Regions from separate parts of the Homo sapiens genome. Here region 1 is linked to region 2. The links come from fine-mapping of genetic effects on plasma protein levels. Region 2 holds a variant in brackets. A gene starts in the other region. All regions are shown on their reverse strands.

Region 1 (13,167 bases), not on the chromosome of region 2:
GACCTCCCTCCACTCCAGGCATGACCTCCACTCCAGGGATGACCTCCCTCCACTCCAGGGATGACCTCCCTCCACTCCAGGCATGACCTCCACTCCAGGGATTACCTCCCTCCACTCCAGAGATGACCTCCCTCCACTCCAGGGATGACCTCCACTCCAGGGGTGACCTCCCTCCACTCCAGGCATGACCTCCACTCCAGGGATGACCTTCCTCCACTCCAGGGGTGACCTTCCTCCACTCCAGGCATGACCTCCACTCCAGGGATGACCTCCCTCCACTCTAGGGATGACCTCCCTCCACTCTAGGGATGACCTCCACTCCACTCCAGGCATGACCTCCACTCCAGGGATGACCTCCCTCCACTCTAGGGATGACCTCCACTCCACTCCAGGGATGACTTCCACTCCAGGGATGATCTCCCTCCACTCCAGGGATGTCCTCTGCTCCAGGGATGACCTCCACTCCAGGGATGACTTCCACTCCAGGGATGATCTCCCTCCACTCCAGGGATGTCCTCTGCTCCAGGGATGACCTCCACTCCAGGGATGACCTCTCTCCACTCCAGGCATGACCTCCCACCACTCCAGGCATGACCTCCACTCCAGGCATGGCCTCCCTCCACTCCAGGGATGACCTCCACTCCAGGGCAGGGGATAGGGGGAGGGGGCTTGGGCTATGCCCACAGGAAGCCTGGGCCATGAACGCAGCCCCTGGGCCTCCTGATGTGGAGCGCATGGGCTCAGGTCCACGCTGGGTTTACAAGGGGAGTGATGGCTGGGCAGGTGAAGAAGGGGGCCACACAAATGTCCGAGAAGGCCCTGCCACGTGCCTTGGAATGTTTGCACAACACCTGGGAAAGGGAATCTGTGGTGTCCGGGACATAATTAGAATTTATGCACAACAGAAATGAGCAGAAGATTCCTGCTCACCCCTTACGGTTACCTGTGAGGTAGGGGGCTCCAGTCACACAAGACACAGAGCATCAGCTGATGACCACAGTTCCATGAGGCTTAGTGGGAATTCAATTAGGCAGCAGGCCAGGCTACATAGGAGCCCCAAAGGGCAGGGACCTGTTTATGCCTCATGTGTACTGTGCTGTTTGCAGTGTCTGGGATGTGTTAGGTGCCACAGATGCTCAATGAGTAATTTTTGAATAAATGGATGAGCAAATGGAGCCTCAAACAAATCGACAAAGTAGCCCCCATTCCTTTTCCTGTGTATGCTCCAAGTCAGTGCAGCTTGGGTGGAATCAAAGCCAGAGGGACTGGCCTCAGCCCTGGCCCTGGGAATTCTGGGCCCCTCTCCAGGGAAGGATCCTGGTCCCGAGGACCCAAGGGTCGACAAGGCGAGGCCAGAGCCAGGACCTTTGATTTCTCCTCTGTAGAATGAGTGTGACAACAAACCCACCCCAGGGTGGTGGCCAGGATAACAGTGCCCTGCTGAGTTACAGTCACTAAAGTCTTGCTACTCCAAGCGTGATCTTGGAGCAGGGGAGCTTGTTCAAAACCCACCATCAGATTCCCCAACCCCACACCTACTGAGTCGGAATCTGCCTTTGGGCCAGGCCCAGTGTCCTGTGTGCGCATTCCAGGTGGAGAAGCCGTGCAGGGGAAGTCTGTCTGCTTGTTCTTTTGATAATTTTAACAAGCTCCAAGCAGCGCCCATCCGGCAAGTATCCCCAGATCACCTTGGGGTGCTTAGAAAGCAGGTTCAGGCCAGAGAGAAGAGCAAGGGGAGGTGATATAAAAACCTCTGAGTCAGAAGGGCTGTGACGAGTGTGCCTGGCCCTGGTCCCCAGCCCGTGCTCTTTTCTTCAGCTCAGGCCTCTGCACATTCAATGTGTCCAGTTGCTTTTCAACCCCCCTGCGTCACTGTGAAAGGAACAGAGCCACACCAGGATTTGCTGTTTCTGACGCAGTCCATGCACAACCTGACAACGGAAACCACGGTTCAGGGACAGGAGTTTCTGGGGCAGAAGGGAGCCCTCTCCCTCACCACACCTGTGGTTCAGCTCCAGCCAGAGGTCCATGCCCTAAGGCTCTGTCTGCCCCTTCCTGCCTTCCTCTTTCCAGTGGCCTCACCTGTCTCCTGCCCATGGATTTAAACATCATCTCTAATGAAGGATCGCCCAGGCTTTAGACTCATCCATCCGGCTTCCACTGAAATATGCCCATCGGATATAATACACTCCATTGATAAGAAAGCAGAACAGCCTTATTGCTGATTGATAGGGAGAAAGTTTGAGTGTCCTGGAGAGAAAATCAAACCAGCCACAACATTCTCTGAGGCCAAAGCCTAATCTAAGCAAAGCTCTAACTCTCTTCAATTCTGTGAAGTCTGAGAGAGATGAGGAAGCTGCAGAAGAAAAGTTCGAAGCTGGCAGAGATTGGTTCATGAAGTTTAGGGAAGAAGCCATCTCTGTAAGACAAAAATGCAAGGTGAAGCAGCAAGTGCTGATGGAGAAGCTGCAGCAAGTGACCCAAAAGATCTAACTAAAATCATTGTGGAGGTGGCTACACTCAACAGCTGATTTTCAATGAAGACGAAACAGCCTTGCATTAGAAGAGGCCATCTCCAACTGTCATAGCTACAGAGGAGAAGTCAATGCCTGGCTTCAAAAATTCAAAGGCCAGGCTGTCTCTTTTATTAGAGGCTAATGCAGCCGGTGACTTCAAGTTGAAGCCTGTGCTTATTTACCAATCTGAAAATCTTTAGCCCTTAAGAGCTATGCTAAAGGTATTATTCTTATGCTCTTTAAATGGAACAACAAAGTCTAGATGACAGCAAATCTGTTCTCAGCATGGCTGACTAAATATTTCAAACCCACTGTTGAGACCTACTGCTCAAAAAATGATCTATTTTAGAATATTACTGCTCTTGGTCAATGCACCTAGTCACCCAAGAACTCTGATGGAAATGCTCAATGAGATGATGTTGCTTTCATGCTTACTAACTAACACAACATCCACTCTGCAGCCCATCAGTCAAGGAGTCATTTGGACTTTCAAGTCTTACTATTTAAGAAATACATTTCATGAGGCTATAGCTGCCATAGAGAGTGATTCCTCTGATGAATATGAGCAAAGTCAACTGAAAACCTTCTGGAAAGGATTCACCATTCTAGATGCCACTAGTACATTCATGATTCACGGGAAAAGGAAAAATATAAACACTGACAGGAGTTTGGAAGAAGCTGATTCTTCCAAACCCCACCATGAGGGATGACCCTGAGGGTTCAAGGCTTCAGTAGAGGAAGTCACTGAAGATGTGATGGAATGAGTGAGAGAGGTAGAGTTAGAAGCTGGGCCTGAGGATGGGACTGAATTGCTGTACTCTCATGATAAAACTTGAATGGATCAGGAGTTATTTCTTAAGGATGAGCAAAGAAAATGATTTTTTCAGATGAAATGTACTCCCAGTGAAGATGTTGTGAAATGCTTCACTCCTGGGGAAGATGTTGAGATGACAACAAATAATTTAGACTATTACATAAGCTAAGTTGAAAAAACAGCAGCAGCATTTCAGAGAATGGACATCAATTTTGAAACAAGTTATTGTGTGAGTAAACTGCTATCAAAAACCATGATATGCTACAGAGAAACGTTTTATAAAAGAGTCCATAGATGCAGCAAACTTCATTGTGGTCTTACTCTAAGAACCTGCTACAGACACTCCAACCATCAGCAACCACCACCCTGATCAGTCAGCAGCCACCAGCATTGAGGCAAGACTCTCCACCAGCGAAAAGATGACGGCTCATTGAAGGCTCAAATGACGGTTAGTAGTTTTGAGCAATGAAATGTTTTAGAATTAAGATATGCACATTGTTCTCTTAGACATAATGCTATTGCACCCTTAATAGACAATAGTGGAGTGTAAACATCCCTTTTATATGCACTGGGAAAGCACAAATCCATGCAACTCACTTTATTGCAGAGGTGTGGAACCGAGCCTGCGGTATCTCCAAGGTGTGCCTGTATTAGTTCCCTGGGCCCGCTATGATGAAGTATCACAAACAACACACATGTATTGTCCCATGGTTCTGGAGTCCAGCAGTTTTAAATGCAGTGTGTGGCAGGGCTGCACGTCCTCGGAATGTTCTGGCAGAGGCCCCTTCCCTGTCTCCCACAGTTCTGGTGTTTCTGGCAGCCCTTGGTGACCTTGGCTAGTGGTTGCATCACTGTGGTCTCTGCCTCTTTCATCAAGCGGAGCTCGCCCTGTGTCTCCGTCTTCATATTCTTTATTCTTATTAGAACACTAGCCATTAGATTTGGAGCCTGTCCTACATCAGTTCGACGACATCTACACTTGATTTCATCCACAAGCACTGTGGTATTTCCAGTAAGCTCATTCACAGGTTTGGGGTGGATGTGAACTTGGGGGGACATGATTCCACCTGCTGCGTGTCTGTCCCTCATCCTCCCGCGCACACATGTGATGATGCTTCCCTCAGCATCGCTGGCTTTCCTGACGAAGCCTCTGACTGCTTTTTGTTTCATCCTCACATCTCCCTTCCTCCTCACCCCCAGGGGGCCCAGGGAAGATGCTGACCAGGGGCTGTCCCCTCTACTCCCCCTCTGGTCCCCTGCACAGTGGGCCCATGAAGTCCCGCCTCACCCTGCCAGGAAACTCTCTGTGACTTCCATCGTCTATGAAGCCCATTCCATGCACCTGGCCTGGGTGCCGCACCAGGAGCCTGCTGTTCTTTGCACCATGAACACCTACCCACTCTCTCTGCCTGAAATACTTTCTCAACTGGGGACACCCCATTCACGGGCCATGTTCCAATCGGCTTACCTTCTGTCTCCTCTAAACAGACTTCCCTGATTCTGGGCTGCCAGATTTTACAGAAGGAGGCCCATCTTCTCTGTACCTGCCCATCGGCACGTGGAGTCATGAATACATACCTTCCTGCTCCCCAGTGAGTGTCACGGTCTTCACCGCATGCTCCTGAAGTGCTGAGCAGCTGAGCTGCCTGTCTTCAGCTTTAATCAGGAAACACGCATTCTGTGGACTGAGGAACAGGAGAGGCCGTGGCACGCAGAGTAGGGGATGCCGCCCTCCATGTTCTGGCCCCAGGAAAAACTAACCTGGAGGCAGAAAAACTCAAACTGATGAATGGATAATTATCCACTGAAAATTCTTTAAGGGGAACTGGTTTATACTTTTTTTGAATTTGAGATAACATCAATCTATTTAAACTACTTTTTAATTCAAATGATGACTTTGTCCCTAATAGCTTAAAAAGCAAAATAACGTACCTTAAACATGACACATACACTCTTGGAGGCTTTTGTCTGTGCATGTGTCGGAAACTGATGTTTGCCAAGTGATAAATAAACAGGTGCCATTAGGAAAAACAGAGGTTTTCACAAATGAAAGCTCCTTCCCTCTCCCACACCCGCTCGCATATCCTCCCTGAAGACAGAGGCCAGAAAGTGAGGCTTGCTCTTCATGGTGCCTGCCGACCTCTGCAGCGCTGGACCCCTGTGGGGGAATGCCAGGAGGCTTAAGAGACACTCCCCTGCCACAGACACAGTAAGGGTTGTGTCCACAGAAATTCGCTTTAATGTTCTCTAACTAGGACTTGACGGATCCATGGCCAGGCTGACAACTCCACACAAACGTGAAGGAACCTGACAGGCAGGTGCCGACATGAAGCAGGTGCAGGTGGCTCCGGGCAAAGCAGCAGCTCCCCAGTCACCATCCACCCCACCTGGGGAAGTAGCACCTCCCCCATCCAAGGTCCACCCCAACCCAGGAGAAGCAGCAGCTCCCCTGTCTGCCATTAACCCTGACCTGGGAGAAACAACACATCCCCAGCCACCTTGCACACTGACCTGGGAGAAACAGCCTCTCCACCATCCACCTTTCACACTGGCCTGGGAGAAGTGGCACCTCCCCCATCCACTGTCCAGCCCAACTTGGGAGAAGCAGCCCCTCCCCCATGTACCATCAACCCCCACCTTAGAGCAGCAGCTTCCCCTTTCCACTGTATACCCTGACCTGGGAGAAGCAGCCCCTCCGCATCCATCGTCCACCCTGACCTCTGAGAAGCGGTGCCCCCCACCCCCATGCAGAGTGCACCCTGATTGCGGGTGATGCCTGAGGTGTGGGAGGGGCGGGGGTTAGCTGCTGCCACTGCTTCTCGTTCTCTCGAGTCCTTGCTCTGTGCCTGCACGTCAGGTTGTTCCTGTGATGGGGCCACGTGCAAGTGTGCACCAAGGGGACTTGGCCGGGTACTGTACGTCCACTGGGACACACCCTTCTACGGGTATTGCACGTCCACTGGGAGACGTCCTTCTAGGGGATCCTCACTGAGCAAATGAAGCAGAATTTGGGTAAAAATGAATTTTCCCAAAGCTGCAGTACAGCTTTTCAGTCCTCTAACTGCCTGAGATAAATGTTGGCAACTTCCTTTTATATTAAATTTCATTTTTGTCACATAATACACTTGATTATTGACCATAATAACTTTATTAATATACAGACTGATTATTGATACTCACCGATGTATTTCATGTGTTATTGAGAGTCACTCATTTGGTTTAGAAAGACCAATATCACATTGAGTAATTCGAAACATATTTAAGGCATAGAACTTGCATTTTTTTCTCTTAAGCAAAATGAGGAGTTCTAGCCAATCTTGCTAGTGTTATTTATAGCATCTTATTTCCTGAGAGAAGACAGGAAAAGTGAGTCCCTGCCTTCCCTCTCTCCGTCTGGCTCCTCCCAGGCCTGTCTGGCAGGGGCCGGGGTGCAGGAGGAGGAGACGGCATCCAGTACAGAGGGGCTGGACTTGGACCCCTGCAGCAGGTACTCGGAGCAAATGGTGAGATCAGAAGGGGGATGATGTCATTCCTTCGAAGGAATGAATTAAACGTGCTTCCTCGTGTGTCTGATTGACAGCCCTGCACAGGAGAAGCGGCATATAAAGCCGCGCTGCCCGGGAGCCGCTCGGCCACGTCCACCGGAGCATCCTGCACTGCAGGGCCGGTCTCTCGCTCCAGCAGAGCCTGCGCCTTTCTGACTCGGTCCGGAACACTGAAACCAGTCATCACTGCATCTTTTTGGCAAACCAGGTACGATTATTTCTTAAACTCAATCAATTATTTAATGGTGCTCTAATTTTAAGAAATTAGAGTTCTCGAACTCTAAGAAGCGGAGAAGAAAAAGGAGCAATTTCGATTCTTAACTTAAGGTGGGTGGTGTATCTATTAACACTAAATGGCAAGTGTTTCTTCACGTGGTGTTTCTACTGCCCGCTTGAAGAGCAAGGCACGTGGCCGCTCCTCAGCTTTTCCTCCGTGGCTGTGCTTTCACCAGCCGGGCACCCCTTCCTCTCTGAGGGTTGTGGCTGCTGCTATTTCAATGTATATACCTGCCTGGGAACCCGGGTAAACGCTTTATGTTTTCAGTTTCCGAAGAAGAAGATTCCACATGAGAGTTTGTTATTGAGGAGAGAATTAGAAACAACTCCCGGAATATCTGAAAAGTAACTGGAGATTAGAGAGAGACTCTGATTGTTAACATCATTATTAGTAGATTAGAGAGAGACTCTGATCGTTAACATTATTAGTAGATTAAAGAGAGACTCTGATTGTTAACATTATTAGTAGATTAAAGAGAGACTCTGATTGTTAACATTATTAGCAGCTGAAAAGTGGTTTTGAACATAACTAGAGAGTATTTGTGGTAAGTCTATGGAAAATCCTGTGACTGCCGGGACACACAGCGACTTTTAACAGTCTTGGGGCAGTTTGCATATGAAAAGCGAGCTGGCAGGTTGCCTGGCTACCACTTAAGGAAGGTGGGTTTGGCTGCCCAGGACTGGGAGCTGAGCACCCAGGAGTCTGGTGTTTAATCAGACTGCTGTTGGTGGTGGACGGCCGGTAAACAATTAGCTCTCTGCAAAGCTATCTTTTACTTTGATTGTTCATACGAAAAGAGTTTTAAAAGACCTTTGCAAATTCAAACTACATTCTGCTGCAGACAGGCACCGAAATCTTTCTTTTGGAAAAACACAAGCATAAACGTGGATGTGTGGCGTGCAGAGGCTGGGGCAGGGGTGAGCGGCACTGGCTCATCCGTGGCTCCATCCATGCATGCCCGGTGTCCCTGGATGGGCTGAGGCCAGGTAGCCTGGCTGCTCATCCTTCCTGTGGGATGGAGCCTCACTGTCCTTTGACAATCCGCAGCAGGGGATGCTTTGTTAGCCTCCTGCTCTTGTAAGAATCTACCTCAAGGCAGAGACAGTAGGATCTGGTTTCGTCAAAGGAGTTTGATTTAGTTTTTCTAACCTGTCCTTATGAAGCTGGGCATCCAGAACTTTCGCATTTACCATCCTGTTCTTGGCTGGCCTCTGCAGGGCCAGCCCCACACAGCTGTCCTTAGGGGACTGCGACGTACCCGGCAGTGTGGGCTGATGAGGTGGGGAGGTGGGAAGAGCCTGCCAAGGCTGTACCTGAGCTGTGTATTCTAACACCGTTCTGTGGTGCTTACTGCATGCAGGTACTGTTCTAAGCTCATGGCCAAGTGTTCGCTCCTGTCATTAAACCCTCTTAAGAGCTCCATAGAAAGGCCCTATCAGCACCACCATTATTACTGCAGCTGCCTCGGGCAGTTAGAGTAGAAAGCGCCCCAGACCCAGAGGCACATTCTGCTCCGGTAACCCATGCCTGTGGCTCGCTGGGCTAAGTCAGCCCCTGGTGAAGTTTCATTTGCCGAATTCATCTCTCATGACAACCCGATGAGGTGGGCATTTTACATGACGCTACGTTTCATTCTACGGATGAGGAAACTGAGACAGAGAAGTTAAGTAAGTTTCCCTAGGTTGCACAGCTGGTGCTCAGCATTGCTCAGCCTGGTGCTGACTCCGGCCGCAGGCCGTGCTGCTTCCGGAGCCAGGACAGATGAAACAATCACCAAGGACCCCTGGGGCGGCACTGGGGGGAGCAGATGGTTTGGGGGGGGGGTCCCAGCAGCAGATGGGTGGGGGGTCTGCAGGTGCTGCCAAGCATTTCTCTTCTTCTGAGGAATGTTTCTCTATTCCTGGAAGGTGAGGATTTCCAGGTTACCAAATGTTGTTTCTGGAGAGGGAGAGTCCTTGGATTAACAATGAGAAGTTAACGGCCTTTGATATTCTAAATATGGGAAGAATTGGGGTCTCAGTCTTCCCTTCAACCTAGAGCAGGGTGTGACCAATTGCTGGAAGGGACCTGGGGAGCCCTGGGACCCTCAGGCTCATGCTCGCCCGGAAGAGGAGAAGCTGAGATCCACAGGGTTAATCGCCCAGCCGGGCTTTGGACCACATCTCCTGACTTCGGGGCCAGCCTCCACTGAGCTGTGCCAACTTAAAATCCCCAAGAATGGAAAAACAGGCCTGCAGGAAAATAAAGAGGCAGGGTCAAAATGATGGCTAAGTCAAGTGTTCTGTTGTTTTGTAAGTATAATTCACCAAATTAAGTTTATTTGTAACTTTTTTTTACAGTTGATATTCATTCTATTTAATTAGGTTATGCATAACTGTTTTTTGCTGGATATTTACACAAAATGCGTTCACAGATTATTTTTGTCAGGCTGGATATTTTTCTAAATTCAAACTTTCTACATCTAAGTCCTGTCTACGAGTCGTATGAACAGAATTACTCCAGGCAAGCGCTGAACTTGCCCATCTTCCATTTGCTCATCTGTAAAATGAGGACAATTAGAGCAGCACATACCTCCCAGGCTATTATGAAGATGAAATAATAGGAATATTTAGAACGTGATGTGCAGTGCTTGCCGGCAAATGCTAGCTCAACAAATCTTATAGTTAGAAGAATCCTGCTTGAAGAGTAAATTTCCTCCTTCGCTCTCAGTTTGCCACAAATCCAGTTGGTGCTGAGTTTTATATGCAAACTGTTATTCAATGGTCATGTGAGTCACTGGGCCAGTCTCGCTCACAGGCAGGGTTGCAGCTGTGGACTCATCACTAACAAGGGTTTCCTGTATTCCCAGGAGCTCAGCTGCAGGAGGCAGGATGGTCTGGAGGCTGGTCCTGCTGGCTCTGTGGGTGTGGCCCAGCACGCAAGGTGAGTGTCCTCAGAGCCTGTGGTCTCTCTCTGGCTTGTGAGATATGGCTTAGCTGCAAGGGGAGAGATGACAAAATAAAGTGTGTGGTTGGACAATCTTACCCGTGAGGACCTTCTAGCTCCTTTATAAATCAAATAGTAACTTACTTCTGAGCCAATATGACATGAGATAATTTATCTTTGGAAAATTCAGGTGTTAGAGAAAAATGCAATTCCACCTAGAGTTGCACAGTTTATCCTTTTTTCTATAGAGGATGTTCACAACACTGCAAGTATTTGGTGTTTGTTGAATTCTTTTTGCTCCACTTTCTTCCTCCTTTAAATATTTTCCCATGTGTTTACTTTTCTACAGTATGATTTTTAATGACCACATAATATTTCATCACAGATAAAGCCTGATCTTTTTCAATCAATTCCCACTTAGATTGGTTTATTTTCATTAGCATAAATGATGACACAAAAAATATTGACGTGGATAAATCTTAAGTAGCATTTGTGATTATATCCTTTGGATAGGTTACAAAATTAGAATTGCTGAATCAAAGCTTTTAATTCTTGCCAAGTAACTCTATGGAAAGTGGTCCATTGCCCACTTCTGTCAGCAACCCTGTGTATTATCCTGTTCTAATTTGCTAAATATTAGATGAAAAGGAAGGCTTTGGCTAAACTTTCTGTTCAGTGTATTACTTTTTTTTTTTTTTCTGGGACGGAGTCCTGCTCTGTCACCCAGGCTGGAGTGCAGTGGCGTGATCTGGGCTCACTGCAAGCTCTGCCTCCCGGGTTCACGCCATTCTCCTGCCTCAGCCTCCCGAGTAGCTGGGACTACAAGCGCCCACAACCATGCCTGGCTAATTTTTTGTATTTTTAGTAGAGACGGGGTTTCACCACGTTAGCCATGATGGTCTCCGTCTCCTGACCTCATGATCCACCCACCTCGGCCTCCCAAAGTGCTGGGATTACAGGTGTGAGCCACCGCGCCTGGCTTTGAATTATTTAAACTATTATGATTTTCGTGAGATCTGATCACTTTTCTTGCCAATAGCTTAGGTGGTGACTTAAAACCATTTGTTTCTGTACTTGATACTGACCACTCTTTCAGATCCTTACCCACAGGGTGCATTAAGAGTTGGAGAATACATTTTTACAAAATAACAACCTGCTGACATAACTGGTTTTAGGCAGTTGATCTCAACAAGAAAGCAACATACGATTTAGCCGCTTTCTGACACTCTATCAATAGCAAGGCTAAAGATCCATGTCTTTCCCAGTTTATTCATTTATTTGGTTTTTTCCTGAGCAATCAACTGGTAGACAGGATGGCTGCTTTTCAGCCTCAGATCTGAGATGGAAGAGCCAGACAGAGTGACCTGGGACATGTGCCAGGATGTCAAGCGAGGCCGGGATTCCCTCACCAAGAAGGTCGGGCTATGCAAAGGGCCAGCTGAACGGACAGGGCGCTGCCTGTCTCCACCGATTTACCTTCTGGCACACGCTCCTCGACCAGCCAGGGGCAGAAACTGACCCCACAGACCCGCAGCTGCGTTGGGCCCACACTCTGAGTAGCGGCACTGGCACGGAGGATAGTGGCTTTTCATCAGAGGTGGCTCCAGGATTCCCATAAAAAAGGGAGAGAAGCTGCGGGATATTGGGAGGCCTCGTTAATTTCCTTACACGCGAGGTTCTGGTTTGTCACCCTGGGTCAGGCCAACCTCGCCCTCTTCCCCTACGTCACCCTTCTCCACTGCGGTTCCCTTTGCAGCTGGTCACCAGGACAAAGACACGACCTTCGACCTTTTCAGTATCAGCAACATCAACCGCAAGACCATTGGCGCCAAGCAGTTCCGCGGGCCCGACCCCGGCGTGCCGGCTTACCGCTTCGTGCGCTTTGACTACATCCCACCGGTGAACGCAGATGACCTCAGCAAGATCACCAAGATCATGCGGCAGAAGGAGGGCTTCTTCCTCACGGCCCAGCTCAAGCAGGACGGCAAGTCCAGGGGCACGCTGTTGGCTCTGGAGGGCCCCGGTCTCTCCCAGAGGCAGTTCGAGATCGTCTCCAACGGCCCCGCGGACACGCTGGATCTCACCTACTGGATTGACGGCACCCGGCATGTGGTCTCCCTGGAGGACGTCGGCCTGGCTGACTCGCAGTGGAAGAACGTCACCGTGCAGGTGGCTGGCGAGACCTACAGCTTGCACGTGGGCTGCGACCTCATAGACAGCTTCGCTCTGGACGAGCCCTTCTACGAGCACCTGCAGGCGGAAAAGAGCCGGATGTACGTGGCCAAAGGCTCTGCCAGAGAGAGTCACTTCAGGGTACGCTCTGCAGGGAGGTGGCCGCCGTGAGGGAGGAAAGAGCTTAGCTGGGAACTGATCTGCTAATGCGTCTGGTGATGCGATGCTTGAGCAGGCAGAGCCTGGCCTTAGAGAAGCACACTGCACATCCCGGCATGTGCTCACACACATGCGTGCACACACCACATGCACATGCACACACTGCCCACCACACGCAGCCACAGGCATGTGCACACATGCACACACACCACACACACACACAAACACACATGCTCACAAACACATGAACACACATCCAAAGACATATACACAAACACTGCATATGCACTCACACTCGCATATGTATATACATCACACATGTACACACACCACGCAACACACACACACAGACACGCACACACACACCTCACCACATACACATGCATGTGAACACACCCTCACATATGCATGCCCATGTGCACACAAACACCATACATGGGCACGCACATGCAGACGCACATAAACACCATTCATACACTCATGTGCACACATGCACACCACACAGACATACATGTGAACACACACATGCACACACGTGCACACACCCTACGTGGGCACCCATGCACATACACAAATAAACACCATGCATGCACTCACATTCACAGACGTGTGCACATACCACACATGCACACACACCACACACATACATGTGAACACACTCATGCATGCACATGTGCACACAACCATATGTAAGCACTTATACATGTGTGCACAAAACAGGTGTGCACACACCACCCACAGCCATGCAATGCACGCACA
Region 2 (8,000 bases):
ATTCACTGCATATACATACATATATATACTATATAAAATGCTTGTAAGTATAGTGTCTGCTCTGAGGGGGTTTGGAGCCAGACTTCTAAAGTTCAAATCCCACCTTTGTCATCTTCTATGCTGTGGATAAGCTATTTAGCTTTTTTGCCTCTGTTTTATCATTTGTAAAATGAGATGCCAGTACCTACCTCCTTAGGTTATTATAAGGAAAATAGGTCCATGTAAAGCTCTTGGAACAGTGCTTAGTATACAAAGCGTTCTTATATGTGAGATATTTTTAACCATCATTTAAATTATTCCTTTAACAAGGTAGATTTAGAAATCTCAGGTATCTAGTCCTCATACCAACAGAGGAAGCAAAGGCTTAGATAATGCAGCATTCATTAAAATTGCCTTTAGAATTTGTTTTTGTTTTTAATTTGATATGCATTTAGGATTTCTCTTCAAAATATATAATGAAGTATATTCAAGACCAAACACAGAAGAAGCCATGAAGTTTTTCCACCTTGATCATAATTCATTCCCTTCTGCAATTCATCACACACTGAGAATAAACACAATAGTCCTCTGCTATCTCTCAGGCTGAACAAGGCAGAGGGGCACCTTCCCAAGCCATAAATGCCTTCCTTGTTGTATAAAATGTATAAGTAGACAGAGAATGTGCACAGCATCAAAGTTAAGTAGCTTACTCGACAAGAAATTGGGTTTGCCCTGGATAAACCGCGATGCTAAAAACCGAAACAGGGATTATAAGAGAGACTGGCCGATTCTGTTTTATATTTACTACTAATATTTATGTTCCAATAAGCCAAAAGTCACTTTCCACCTCAAAGAGAGCTGAATACCCAGTGGGCCCGAGATGAATTTATTTGAACCATGGAGGACATTCACCACCTCCGCGTCCACACCTGAGTTTAGCATTTGCATGGCTGACTCACTGCCTGTGGCTTCCACTTCACTTCCCTCAGACTGCTCCTCAAAACATCTCTGTTCCTCATTCTATAGCAGGCTATAATTTCCCTCTACTCTGACAAACACCTTCACATTCAGTGATGGGGAAGGCATTTCAGTTGTCAATCTAAAGACCAAGCCCTGCTGAGGAAAATGAATGTCAGGATCACGTTGTTAATAAATTATCCCTCTTCTTCAGAAATGCAGACTTCCTGCCTGTCTACCTTCCAACGAAGTCAGAAACGCTCTTTCTTATTATTTTCTCTGCTCTGTAACTTTCTAAATTTGACCCTTTCAAAAATATACATGCAAGTCTCCACATTATAATTATGAAAGAATTAGGAACATATTCTCTAAGGTATAGAGGGAGAAAAAAAATTATCTGTATATGCCTGTCTTACATTCTCCTTTCTGGCCAAAGGTTAAATTGTAATACATGTTATTCACCACGTTGAATTTAGAATTGAAAAATAAGTGAAACACATGGGGAGAGTAAAATGTAATGGAAAAATAAAAGGCTGTGAAATCTGACAGACCAGATCTAAGCTCTACTACTTTTTAATTTGGTGACTTTGAGTATGTCAGCTGAAGTCCTCTTAAGCCTCAGTTTCTACATATATAAAATAGTAAAATATTGCTTACTTTCCAAAGCTGCTGTGAGAATTAAACCTATGCTAATCACCTAAAATAGTGTAGATGCCACAGTAGGTATTCAAAAACTGGTAGCTACAATTATTTTTCAGATCTGTTTTACTTCTCATTTATATTACTCAACAACTCTTAAATGCAACTAACTTATTCTATGGTAAATTGGAAGACGGTATGTTTGCTATTTATAATCAAAGCTGCTTTCTGGAGAAGGTTAATTTGGGTAAGCAAAAGGCCCTTTTGTCTGAACATTTCAGTAGTTTGGGTTTACAAATTTAGAAGTAATCAATATTAAAAGCTGAATTAGACATTTTTGGAGTTTGGGGACAAAGGGAGGAAAAGGAGTGAGAGAGGGGATCTTGAAAGACGAGAGCAAGAAAGAAGCTAACACCCGATGAGACCAGAAATTTCGTTGTGTTGAGGCTGTGGAAGTGTTTTAAGATAGAAGATGCCAACCGCTATTGCTTCAACATGTTTGCATTACTGCAACAGAAAATCTCTCCTCTATCTTCCTTCTAAATCTTCCGTAAAGTTTCCTAAAGCCATAACTGTTTTGCATGAGTACGTATTGTGTTGATCAAAACCTACTCACGGGTGAGTTTAGGTGTGTATGACAGAAATAGCTTTTGAGAAACAGAAGCCTGGAGACAGAGGAGATCTGAGATCATAAGCAAAATTAAAAAGTTAAGCAATACCAACGTTGGCAAGCATGTGAAGTGGAGGCCACTCATCCCCACTGCTGGGGTATGAAATGATCCAGCCATTTTGGATACTTTACCTAGTAAAATTTAGTACATACATATCCTATGAGGTAGCAATTTGAGTTCCAGGTGTATGCCCTGGAGAAGCTCTAGTTCATTTGTATGGGACTCAGGCACAAGAATGTTCAAGGCATTTTCATAAGAAAAAATTGGAAACAGCAATAAAAATGCCACCTGCAACAGCATGAGTAAATCTCAAATCCATAACTTTTAGTGAAAAAAGTAACAGAAGAATAGATATGATTCTATTTATACAAATGGAAAAAATAGGCAAAACTAAATCACAAATTTATATTTAGGGACAAAAACATATAAAGAATAAGCATTTATAGAAAAAACAAGGATAATTAATACAAAATATAAAATAGTAGTTGCCTGAGGAGTGAGAGGGATGTGATCAGAGAGGGGCATAGAGGAGCCTTTAAGTCACTGGCAATATTCTATTTCTTAAGGCAGATGGTGGGCATATAAGGGCAGTTTTCTTCAAATTACACATATATGTTATCCACACCCTTTTGTATATATGAAATAGTTCACAATTTTAAAATAAAAGCATTTTAAGTGAGCTGACACTGTAGCAGTGTCAGGAGACTATCATTACCAGTCATGGACAGGGTCTTCAGTTTAATGCCTACACCAGCACAGACAATAAGGTCTTGGGCCTATATAGAACATGAAGTTACAAATGAGGTATAAGGATATGTCAGCTTGAATGACACATGTTAAAAGTATCATTGCCCTGTACCCCAAAGCAAAAACACTGTGTATACTTTTTAAGTCAACATAAAACATTTATAAAAATTGACCACACATTAGGCCATAAGTAAATTCTCAACAAATACGTAAAAGTCAATATCATATAAATAATGCTCTCTGACAATTCCAGATTGGAAATCAATAACGTCGTAAGTACCTGGAATGTATAGGACAGGACATTTCCACTCAGCCTGTAGAAATCTTTTCCATCCCCACTAAACACCTTTCTACATTGACCACCAAAACTTTTGGTATTGATGACTCTGTTCCTAAACTGGCCAGTGAGTTCATTGTAACTGTTAAAAGGAGGAGGAGGAGAAGGAGGAAATAAAAAGCCGTTAAAAACCAGAAATAGCACTTGGTGGGGAAAAAAGTTTATTACAGAACTCTACAAATTCTTAAAATGCATTACACTTAAACACTTCTTTGAGAGAGTTCAAATGAAGAGCACAGCATCCTAATACACACCATACATTATCCAGCTTCCCCTGCTTGGTATAATCACTAAAACTAATGGCTCAGAAAATCCAACATTCTTTCCATCTAAGAACATATTTGGGAAACACATGGCTCTTTCGTATCTATGGCAACAGCTGGTTTTGAATTGAATCTGTAGATAAAACCAATACAATTAAGGTTACTCTTGAGGAGAGAGAGCTCTCTATAATAAATTTTAACTAATTGCCTCTTAGCATACTGAATGGTGTACTCTTTCAAATAATTTTACCCTATTTCTCTGTTAATAAATTTTAAAATATTTCAGAAAAATTACTTCTTTCACTCTAAAATAGGTTATTTTTAGGTCTTGAAACCTTAACAAGTCATATGACCCTTAAAAATTCTTCAGAATTCTCTTTGATAACGTAAACACAGTATTTTCCAACCTTCACTTGGAAACAGGTTCTTGGCTAGTTTAGACAATTGCTGTTCAGCCTGGATATTACAACACACTTGCTTCTGTCTCTCTTCTCATCCTGTTCTCATTCTATTGTCTCTTCATTCTCTTGAATAGCCCCACATTATTGAATTAGTATTTTTTCTCTCTCTCTCCCTCCCTTCCAACCCCCATGAAGTGACCAACTGTCCAGGTTTCCCTGGGCCTGAGGGGTTTCTTGGAATTAGAATTTCAGCGCTAAAACTAGGACCATCCCAGGACAAGGGGTCACTCTGCATCTACCACATGTATCTACAGGTATACATGTGTGAACAAAAATACTGTCTCAGGATGTGGCAAAGAGCTCTGAGCCAATGAATAATCTTGCCTATTAGAAGACTTGTTCGTAGACTTACCAAACTATAAAATAAAACAAAATTTAAAACTACAATTCACTGATGTACTCAGGAGGCTGCCCAGCACCTTACCCATTTCCAGTAAGTTCTATGTTAGGAGGAGGTTTATCGATATCAC[A/G]GGAAGGTCTCCTTTCTGAGTCCTCACATCTGTCTTCATCAGCACTGTCTTCATCACAGTCAGAATCCCCATTGCAAACCAATGATTTGCTGATGCACTGACCTGAACACCAGAGAAATCCACGTGCAAATGTAAAAGAGGGAAGAGGAGAAACACTACCCAGGACCAAAAAGGGTTTTCCTGCTACCTGTAACACTGCACTGATACGCCAATGTAAATGGGAGATAAATCCTCAGAGTGTCTCGGAAAGGACTAGTGAGTATTTTGTCTCCATTTTATGGCACATGGAAATGGTTCTTAACTCAATCAGACACAAAATTGAAAATAGGATCTGAATTCAGAATTTCAGGATCTCACCCATAATCATCAAGCAGCTTGTCTAAATTATATAATTCCGACTACTGAGAAAATAGACTGACTTCCTGCCCTTCAACTTTCACTTTTTTTCTGTCATTCTAAGATGACAAAGTTGAGCTTTTTTTGGTAATTTAAATTTGTAAGCTTTAAGAGCCGGACAATTTTATCAAAAGGTTAAAATTCAACATTTCCGTAGCACAATAGGGGCTAGGATACGAATATGAATAAAAATGGCCTTTGCCAGCTTTTCATATACTTTACAATCTAATAGGAAATACTACAAAGACATAGATCATAATTGTTATGATAGCCATAAATCTAGAGTACCAAGGAAGCACTGGAGAGTACCAGATGATCTAGTTCCTGCCTATCTCCCCAGCATCATCCCCAGCCATTCTCCTACTAGCTTCTTATACCCTAGTCATACCAGACTACCTGCATGAATAAAAGGCCAAGCTTTCTGTCATCTCCAATGATCTTGCGCTTGGTTAGTTCTCTCTGCCTAGATGGGTTTTCTCTACCTATCTCTTACTTGTCCTTCAAGAATCAAATTAAACATTATCTCCTCTTGAAAACCATCGCTGCCTCACAGGCTCTGATGCATGTTCTTCCTCTATGTCCTCATAGGATGTTTGGTGCACAGCTGTCCTTATAGGACATGTACCCTGCTATACTGCCACTCAATCCAATGCAGCAAACATTTGTTGAGAACTTATTATGTACCAGGGACTCCAGAAGTCAACATGTAAGAAATATAATTCATGTCTTCAAGGAGTTCACAGTTCACCAAGAGAGACATTCAGGCCAACGAATCATCCAAATGACAGATGGTACAATATGCATAAGGAAAATATGGAAGTGATTGCTTAATTACTTCTATCAGTTGGGGATTTAGGGCAGGCTTCCTGAAGGAGTGGTTATCTAATTTGGATTTTGAAAGTAAAATAAGCGTTCAACAGGTATCACTGAGGAGCACTTCTAACACAGGGATTATTTATGTACTATTCTGCCCATAAAACTTTAATATTTGTGAGGGAAGAGGCATGTGTTTCACTTGTATATACAACTCTCACCACTATTTGAAACAAGAATCATAAATGTTTACTAAATGTTGTTACATTAATCTGACTGCATAAATGCAACATAGAGTATTGGTCAAATAATATTCTATGCCAAAACTGGTGTTTCAATCACCCCATGCATAGGAGAGAACTGTATTGCTCCTTAATCAGTTCATTAGGGTTGCTTTTCTTGTAGATATAATAATTTAGGCAGTAACATTGTTTTCGTCTAATCTCAATATATGTACAAGACTCACTCTGCATCTTTACTCAAAATACACTGTCAAGAACTTTTTGGGTCTGTCAGTAACTAGAGTTCCATTCAAAGAGACAAAGAGCATTCCTATGTTTATTACCAGATGCATCCCCTTGCATTTGAAAAAATGATAGCTGAGTGGATGATTAACATACCAACAAAAATCCTGATGATATTTGGGGGAATTAACTTTAGGCCAATATAAATTCAGTAAAATTTAACAAATATATAACGAGCAAGTTCACCAAATAACGTTTGAATTTACAATCTGCATGCTGAGCCTATGGAAAACAAGTTACCTGAAAAGCACCTGAAACGCTCTCCACATCCCTCCTCTGTTGGACATCCTCTTGTAGGTTCACAGGACTGTGTTTCAAAAGCATTTCCAACACAAGGCTGGCCTCCATACTGCCCATACACAGCAACTGACCGCCTGCGAGTCTAAACACAAAGCAGGCAGTGGTTTGTTTGTTTATTTGTTTGTTTTCAAAGAAATCTCTAGTTTCCTTTATCTGAGTAATAAAATCTGAGAAAAAGTAATACAATTAGAAAAACAACGTCTGGAAAATTGTTCTGGTGTTCTACAGAAATAAAACCTCAAAATCAATGAATTCACAGACCTATTTGTCCTTGAGTTAAGCAACATGTTGGCTATTATTTATAGAGAGCTCCCAGGCATATATTGACTTTCAGGATTAAATGCAAAAAAAAAAAAATGATGTTAGTGAATCTTTAAGAAAGTAACCTGATTGCAGTGAGCTGAGATCATGCCACTGCACTCCAGCCTGGGCAATAAAGTGAGACACCGTCTCAAAAAAAAAAAAAGAAAAGAAAAAAGAAAGTAACCTGAGTAAAGCTTAGAGGGTAGACACATAAGCAAATACATTAGAGCATAGAATGATTAATATATTTACCAAATCTGTGTTCCAAGAGCTCATTAGAGAAAGTGAAATGACTTTTTCTGGAGAGAGGATAAGGTACTGGGAAAGGGGTTAAGATGAAGCAGAGTTAAGGAAACCTTCAGAAGAGTGATGGTGATTCCTTTCAGCTAAACTGTAAGCCTTCTTCAGGAAGAAAGGCAAGCAAAAACAATTCAGAGAGAAATACATGAATATGGAAGTCAAATTTACAAAACAGAAGCCTAAGTAATCCAAAGGTGAAGCTACATCTACAAAGGAATACGTAAAATACAAACCTCTTGAGGGAAAAGAATATAGGAAAACTGAAGAAATTATCAAACTAAATGAGAAACTTACAACTAATTCATACTAAAGTTTATTTAATCCTCATTCACTATGAAGACATGTATCTAACATTCAAACAAAAAGAAAGATCTACCCCTGGCAATCAGTGAGCATCTTCCAGGCCTCTTCCTCTACTCACCTCTTCTCCATTAACAAACAAAACGGAACCAAAACTGAGCGTCCTGAGGATTTAAACCTTGAGTGAAGATCAACAGGGAAGAGTTGCTGTACATATCAATGTCGAACTTATTCATCCATCCTAAATTGGGTTAGAAGTGGGAATTCCTTGGCATGAGGGGTCACAGTGGCCATAATTTGAACTCTGAGCAGGTACGCACCAGCCTGAGCATGGCTCTGGTGTCTTTCATCATGTTTAAGCAAAGGAGCCACAGAGGAATATGAGTGGGGAATGGAACTCGGTAAGGTTTCTTGATACCATTTTTAGTCCCTTTGTAAGTGATGAAGATACCGCTCATGTGTGACTTAACAGTGTCCTTTTGTGAAGTTCCAGAGCCCAGATGGTGTTGTTTGCATAAGAAAGTGTTTTTCTTCTCCATA

Alleles and levels. Positions count from the first base shown, and alleles are read on the strand shown. Strength reflects both the effect of a copy and how common the allele is.
For the plasma level of the protein whose gene starts at base 6,961 in region 1, allele A in region 2 goes with a higher level than allele G (weak association).

What was found. PIP is the posterior inclusion probability: the model's chance that the variant is causal. The UK Biobank Pharma Proteomics Project read protein levels with antibody pairs (Olink). The fine-mapping took linkage between variants from a reference panel, not from the people measured, so its PIPs are less certain.
Region 1: it holds the start of THBS2, and the variant in region 2 is fine-mapped to the plasma level of the THBS2 protein (UK Biobank, PIP 0.98).

The regions. Positions count from the first base shown.
Region 1 is chr6:169,247,640-169,260,806 of GRCh38, reverse strand. It overlaps THBS2 (thrombospondin 2), which reads left to right and starts at 6,961. Exons shown (of 22, transcript NM_003247.5): 1 at 6,961-7,083; 2 at 10,001-10,074; 3 at 11,834-12,390. The coding sequence starts at 10,023. RefSeq lists enhancers at 7,375-7,886, 7,887-8,399, 8,912-9,425.
Region 2 is chr5:40,932,964-40,940,963 of GRCh38, reverse strand. It overlaps C7 (complement C7), which reads right to left. Exons shown (of 18, transcript NM_000587.4): 4 at 6,498-6,639; 5 at 4,479-4,626; 6 at 3,274-3,412. Among named protein-coding and RNA genes, the nearest start is that of C7, 27 kb to the right of the region's middle. The variant A/G (reference allele first, on the strand shown) is at 4,525.